Homo sapiens: one gene and its partner. Changing the gene in region 2 together with the main gene of any one other region gives a genetic interaction. Each region holds a gene or a part of one and is shown on either strand. Other genes may lie near its edges.

Region 1 (3,606 bases), on a different chromosome or scaffold from region 2:
TTTAAAAATTTCTATTTAATGCAGTTAGAGTAACTTGTAAGCTATTAGGAATTACTTATTCTTACCTTAATTTTCTTTTCTTTTCAGGAATTTAGTGGTTATGTTCAACAAGTAAAATATGCAATGACAAGAATAAAAGCTGCCATGCCAAGAATCTATGAGCTCGCAGCTGGAGGCACTGCTGTTGGTACAGGTTTAAATACTAGAATTGGCTTTGCAGAAAAGGTTGCTGCAAAAGTGGCTGCACTTACAGGTTAGTGATCACGTGAATTATTTCTCATTTTCATTTCTCATTATACGTGGTCTGTACATTTTCTGAGTGTTCCTGTCTTGAATTCTTGTGAATTTAAAGTTAGAAATGATATTTTTCCATCAAACATGTGTTTTAAGTATATTTCTGAAGTTATAATGTTAATTATTTGCCTTTTAAAAAATGTTCCATGTAGGAGTTTATACAGCATGCCATTAAAATCTACCAGTGTTAGCTTTGTTTACTAGTTAGTTTTCAATTAATTTCCCTTTAAAGTTTTGAATAGCAGTTTTCAAAATAGGCAGAAAAAACTGAGTGTTGAGTAAGTTATTTGAATAGTAAATATGTTGTAGACAGACTTAATTTCTTTTTTTTCCTATTATGTCATGCTGTGATAATTCTTTGAATTATTGACCTTTTTGAACCATGTCTTTCCTTTAGTAGAGAGAGTATTATACTTTAGATAATGATAACTATTATTAGGGCCAAGTTGTCATCTTCAGAAAACTCTCATTAAGATGTAGATGTTACCAGACGGTTAGGGTAGAGATAATTATACACTGCACATGATAGCTTACCAGCTGATTTGTCTTTAAACCATATTTTAATAGAAAAGAACTCTACTTTTAGGGTTTGGCAAATGTAGATTTATAAAATTTTTAACATGGGGGTTAACTGAGAACATCTAACTCATTTTAGCACACTGTTTTTATAGGGGATCTTGTGGGCTCCTGGCTAGGGGAGAGGATGAAGCACAGTAAAGTGGACAAAGAAACTTTAAAAAATTGTATTAGGGGCCGGACATGGGGGCTCACACCTGTAATCCTAGCACTTTGGGAGGCCAAGATGGGCAGATCACTTGAGGTCAGGAGTTCGAGACCAGCCTGGTCAACATGGCGAAACCCTGTCTCTAGTAAAAATTTAAAAAAATTAGCCGGGCATGGTGGCGGGCGCCTGTAACCCCAGCTACTTGGGAGGCTGAGGCAGGAGAATTGCTGGAACCCTGGAGGAGGAGGTTGCAATGAGCCAAGATCGTACCACTGCCCTCCAGCCTGGCTAAAAAAGCAAGACTCTGTCTCAAAAAAAAAAAAAAGAAAAAAGGTATTAGGAAAGGAGTGTGGTATAAACCAGAATGAATTCCCATATACTTTTTACTCAAGCATAGTCAGGCATCATATACGTGTGTTTGCAGTAGGATTGTGTTTTTTCTTTCAGTACATTTATCATACTTGTTATTTCATCTTTTTAAAATGTAGTGCCTGGCTAAGCACAGTGGAATTACACTCCTGTAATTCCAGCACTTCAGGAGACCAAGGTGGGTGGATCGCTAGAGCCTAGGAGTTTGAGACCAGCCTGGGCAACATGGCGAAACCCCATCTCTACTAAAAATTAAAGAATTAGCTGGGCGTGGTGGTGTGCACCTGTAGTCTTAGCTACTCTGGAGGCTGAGGTGGGAGGATTGCCTGAGCCATGGAGGTTGAGGCTACAGTGAGCTGTGATTGAGCCACACTGCACTCCAGCCTGGGCAGCAGAGTGAGACCCTGTCTGAAAAAACTTAAAAAATGTAATACCAGATTCTTTCTACTCCTTTAGGACTTCTTTTAAAAATGTAGACAAAATTTGAGTCTTAAGTAAACATTTTTTTCTGAAGTAAAATTTTTATTTTTTCGTATATTGGAACTTTCTGTTTCACTTGCTAATGGTAGAAAAATGTTTAGTTTAACTTGTTCACCCATCTAGGATATTTTTCTTTTCTTTAGGCTTGCCTTTTGTCACTGCTCCGAATAAATTTGAAGCTCTGGCTGCTCATGACGCTCTGGTTGAGCTCAGTGGAGCCATGAACACTACTGCCTGCAGTCTGATGAAGATAGCAAATGATATTCGATTTTTGGGTTCTGGTCCTCGGTCAGGTCTGGGAGAATTGATCTTGCCTGAAAATGAACCAGGAAGCAGTATCATGCCAGGTAATCACATAGCTAGTAAATGTTGGAGCTAAAACTTGACTAGGTCCTAGGCATTCTTAGCTATGGACCATGTCTCTCTTTGTTTAAAGTTATCCCGCAGCTGGATGCGCAAGGCGCACTGTTCCAGCATGTCTGTGGTCCTCTGGTCAGGACTGCTGGGCACGTCACCTGACAAGATAGGAAGAAAGAATCTGACTTAGCAGCAAGTATTTCGAATCCCACATTAGAAAATGTAGAGCAGGCTGTTAAAGTGATCAGCGCGGGTTGAATAAAAAGAAGTCATACCAAACTTCACTTATTTCATTTTTTGCATTCCGTTATATGCCTGTTAGATATAGCAAGTGACACAACAGTGTATGTCTGGATTTCAGCAAGTCATTTGATAGATTCGCATGATAGTCATTGATTCCAGTGGAGAAGCGTGGGCAGTGCTGGCAGATGAATGTAGCTGGGTGAACAGTGACATTTCAGAAGTGACTAATGAAGTGACTTCAGTCTAGAAGAATATATTGGTAACAAGCTGAAGGGCTCTGCCCTTCAACACTTTACTGGTGACTGAGGGTGAAGGAAGAGAATACATGCTAATCATATTAACAGTTAACAAAGTTGGGATAGCAATACTATGGATGACAGAACTGAGATCCATAAAGGCCACTGTAGCTTGGGCTAAAACTGACAATGTAACTTTTAATAGTGAGAAAGGCCTGACTCTAGATTTTTATGGAAATTATGGATCTGTAGAATAAGAAGAGATGAAATTTTGTTTTAAAGTACTTCATGTTGAAGAATGACATAAAGGTTTAGTTGATTGCAAATCCAGGGTGATTGCCAAAAGAAAGAGAACTGGGGGAGTCACAGATAAAGGCAATAATCCACCCAATAATCTTTCCAGTGTGTTAACTTGTACTGGTCAGAGGAATCTGGGTTGTTTGATTCAAACTTGGAGCTTGTCCAAGGAGTGTGAGCAGGGTAGTGGGGTTCCAGAGACTCGTGATAAATAGGAAAATTTTAGCTTAGCATCACCTTCCCCTAGGAAGCCTCCCATGTGTTAGTGAAGGGTCGCTTTTATAAGTGTTCTGATAGCAGCATACACTACTCTGTATTTACCCCTTATAATTGCCAGCTCTTTCTCCCTAGCCTCCAAGTTCTGCGAGGGCAGGGCCTGCATCTTTCTTATTCAGTGTTGTATATTGAGTGCCTGGCTCCATAAATATGTATAGAATGAATGAAAATCATGAAGGTGGAGAACTATATTTAATGTGTAGTTGTGGCTACTCGTTAGCCTTTGAATGATTCATTTTGTGGCTACCCATCCCACCTTCCTTGGTTGGTTTGTTTCATTAAATTACACTGATGGTTGGGCCTTGCTTTATTGTATATCTTACTCTATTT
Region 2 (3,600 bases):
TGGGTATTGTGCCTCTTATTAAGCTCTTTATTCACATCTTATTTCTTTAGTAATTCACAGAATTGGAATTTTTGGATTAAAGTTCTTTTTTTTTTTGAGACGGGGTCTCACTCTGTCGCCCAGGCTGGAGTGCAGTGGTGTGATCTTGGATCACTGCAACCTCCGCCTCCCGAGTTCAAGCAATTCTCTGCCTCAGCCCCCCAAGTAGTTGGGATTACAGGCACCCGCCACCACGCCCAGCTAATTTTTTGTATTTTTAGTAGAGATGGGTTTCACCATCTTGGCCAGGCTGGTCTTGAACTCCTGACCTCGTGATCCACCCGTCTCGGCCTCCCAAAGTTCTGGAATTACAGGCGTGAGCCACCGCGCCTGGCCTGGATGAAAGTTTTTTTAAAGGGAGTCTTGCTCTGTAGCCCTGGCTGGTGTGCAGTGGTGTGATCATAGCTCACTGCAGCCTCAAACTCCTGGGCTCAAGTGATCCTCCAGCCTCAGCCTCCTCAGTAGCTTGGACGACAGCTGCACACAACCATGCCCAGCTAATAGAGACGGGGGACTCACTATGTTGCCCAGGCTAGTCTCGAACTCCTGGGCTCAAGTGATCCTCTTGCCTGGGCCTCCCAAAATTGGGATTACAGGCGTGAGCCACCGCTCCTGGCCCGAAAGAGTGTTTTTAAGGCTTTAAAAAAATATTGCCAACATGGTGAAAACCCGTTTCTACAAAAATACAAAAAGGATCCGGGCATGACGGCGAGTGCCTGTAATCCCAGCTACTCAGGAGACTGAGGCAGGAGAATCGCTTGAACGTGGGAGGCAGAGGTGGTAGTTAGCGGAGATCGCGCCACTACACTCCAGGCTGGGCAACTGAGGGAGACACCGTCTTAAAAAAAAAAAAGTTCCCAAGTCTAAAAAAAAAAAAATCATCAATCTGCTCTCAAAAACTGTCGCAACAATTTACAATCTCATCAGCACTGAGTATCCATTTCCTTGCACCCTTCTCAGTAGTATTACCATTAAACAAACAAAATTTATATGCGTCAGTTTGTTGGGCTCAAAGGAGCCTCTCGACAAGTTTCCTATTCCCCACGCTGCCTCTCCTCTGGACACAGGAAGGGGTCCTTTTCCTTATTTATTTTGTTATTTCATTTTCGTCAACACGGCTCGGCTTGGGGACAGGGGTCGGGGGCAGGCCGGTTACCGCAGAGGTGGAGGCCGCGCGGCACCTGGCCTGGAGAGCTCACCACACAGCGACACAGACTTCTTCTCAGCTGGGTCCACCTGCTTGCCTCGGGGCGACAGAGGGCGCCACGGCGTCCGCGACGGACCCCGCCCCCAGGCAGTGCGCCGCGCTCCCGTGACGTATTTCCGCGTCATCTGCCGCCGAGGCTTGCCCCCATTGGTTGTCTGCGAGGCAATAGGGGCGGAGCCGAGTGGGAGTGTGGAAAGCGCCGCATCCCGGGTGGGAGGCGAGGCTTCCCCTTCCCCGCCCCTCCCCCGGCCTCCAGTCCCTCCCAGGGCCGCTTCGCAGAGCGGCTAGGAGCACGGCGGCGGCGGCACTTTCCCCGGCAGGAGCTGGAGCTGGGCTCTGGTGCGCGCGCGGCTGTGCCGCCCGAGCCGGAGGGACTGGTTGGTTGAGAGAGAGAGAGGAAGGGAATCCCGGGCTGCCGAACCGCACGTTCAGCCCGCTCCGCTCCTGCAGGGCAGCCTTTCGGCTCTCTGCGCGCGAAGCCGAGTCCCGGGCGGGTGGGGCGGGGGTCCACTGAGACCGCTACCGGCCCCTCGGCGCTGACGGGACCGCGCGGGGCGCACCCGCTGAAGGCAGCCCCGGGGCCCGCGGCCCGGACTTGGTCCTGCGCAGCGGGCGCGGGGCAGCGCAGCGGGAGGAAGCGAGAGGTGCTGCCCTCCCCCCGGAGTTGGAAGCGCGTTACCCGGGTCCAAAATGCCCAAGAAGAAGCCGACGCCCATCCAGCTGAACCCGGCCCCCGACGGCTCTGCAGTTAACGGGACCAGCTCTGCGGAGTAAGTATGGGGCGGGCGGTGAACCTCGGGGCCCGGCTGGGGAGGCCCGAGCCGGGGAGCAGGAGCGCGCGCCAGGCTCCGATCTGGTTTGTCACGTACGTCTGGGGCTGGCAGGGGGCGAGAAACTCCCGGCCGCCGAGGTATCGGTGACTAAGCACTGATTGTGTTCCTGACTCAGACCAGTTAGCGGATCCCGCGGGTCTCCATTCCTCTCTGTACCCCTTTTCCCGACCGTTTTAGTGGTTCCTGGCCACTGTACAGTCTTCTCCCAAGAAAATAAAAGCTAGCACGTCTCCCCTGCCTCCTCCCAGTTCTGTTCTAAATGTGATCATCTGGGAGTCTGGCCTGTAACGGGGAGAGGAGGCTAATGTTTTGGAAAGAATTAAGATCGCATCTGTGCTTTTGAGACCAGCTCAGGGTATTAAGTGTGGAGCATCATCCTCACCTTCATGCCTGACACCTGTGGGGCCTGAGTGCCTTGTTGCAGGCCAACTGCCTGGCCAGCGGGGGCGTGCTGGAAGTCCGTGTGGACTTCGTGGCTTTTCCTTGCTGACTTTGGAGGTTCCTGGTACTTGGCCTTCCTGGGAAATTGCTCAAGAAAGCGGCTTTCTTCTTCATCCTACTCTTCATTCATTCATTGAACAAACCATTTTCTCACTAATGATTTCCTAGCTTTCCGTACTTCACCAGGAGCCCCTAAACTCCTGACCTGAGGCATGAACACCATGACCTAGAAACCACATGCTAGGTGCTCCATCTCTGCAGCTTCCAGCGTTGCTTACAAACGAGCACTTTATTTCATTAAATAATCATGAGTCTGTTTCCTGGGGGTTTCTGAGCTCCCACAACTCTCTTGGGTTCTAGGTAAGGGACAAGACTATGTGAGGGAAAGCTGCTTAGCTAGCTAGAGAAATAGCCAGAAAAGATTAGGTTATTATTATTTTTTTGCCTTTTTTTGGTTGTTGTTTGCCCAACCTTCAATAAGGATTGGGTTCTTAATCTTTTACCTGCACACTGCAGACTTTAGGAAGCTAATTGATGAAATCAGAATAGGCTTGGACCTTATGCTCTTTGGTGATTTCTGTAACCTCCCTTCCTTTCTCTAGATTTTTAGAAAATTTTATTTTTTAAACTTTTATACAGATGGGGTCTTGCTATATTGCTTAGGCTGGTCTTGAACTCCTGGACTCTAGCGATCCTCCCAAAGTGCTGGGATTACAGGCATGAGCCACTATGCCCAGCCAACTTTCTCTAGATTTTAATAACCCGGGGACCTGTTGGCTTGATGACTTGTTCCATCCCTGTAATGATCACAAGGTCGATGGTGGACCTGTGGTGTGTGTTCAGCTGTGTTTTTCAGACCTGCTCCCAACAGACTCTCTTCTTTAGTCCCCTCTCAATCCTGTGGGGTCTATTTTGCATAATACTGACTTGTATAGGTAGTTGGATTGCATTATTGCATTGCAAACATTTGTTCTTTTTTTTTTTTTTTTTTTGAGTCGGAGTTTCACTCTTGTTGCCCAGGCTGGAGTGCAATGGTGCGATCTTGGCTAACTGCAGCCTCTGCCTCCCGGGTTCAAGCGA

What was found. Genes that interact genetically often act in the same process or in processes that back each other up.
Region 1: changes in MAP2K1 (region 2) and FH are lethal when combined (synthetic lethality), as found in Homo sapiens cells (one large-scale study listed by BioGRID).

The regions. Positions count from the first base shown.
Region 1 is NC_000001.11:241,502,650-241,506,255, reverse strand, and holds part of FH (fumarate hydratase, mitochondrial), read left to right. Parts: intron 1-87; coding exon 88-253; intron 254-2,010; coding exon 2,011-2,214; intron 2,215-3,606. UniProt on the Homo sapiens protein: Catalyzes the reversible stereospecific interconversion of fumarate to L-malate. Experiments in other species have demonstrated that specific isoforms of this protein act in defined pathways and favor one direction over the other.
Region 2 is NC_000015.10:66,385,412-66,389,011, forward strand, and holds the start of MAP2K1 (dual specificity mitogen-activated protein kinase kinase 1), read left to right. Parts: upstream 1-1,500; 5' UTR 1,501-1,936; coding exon 1,937-2,016; intron 2,017-3,600. UniProt on the Homo sapiens protein: Dual specificity protein kinase which acts as an essential component of the MAP kinase signal transduction pathway.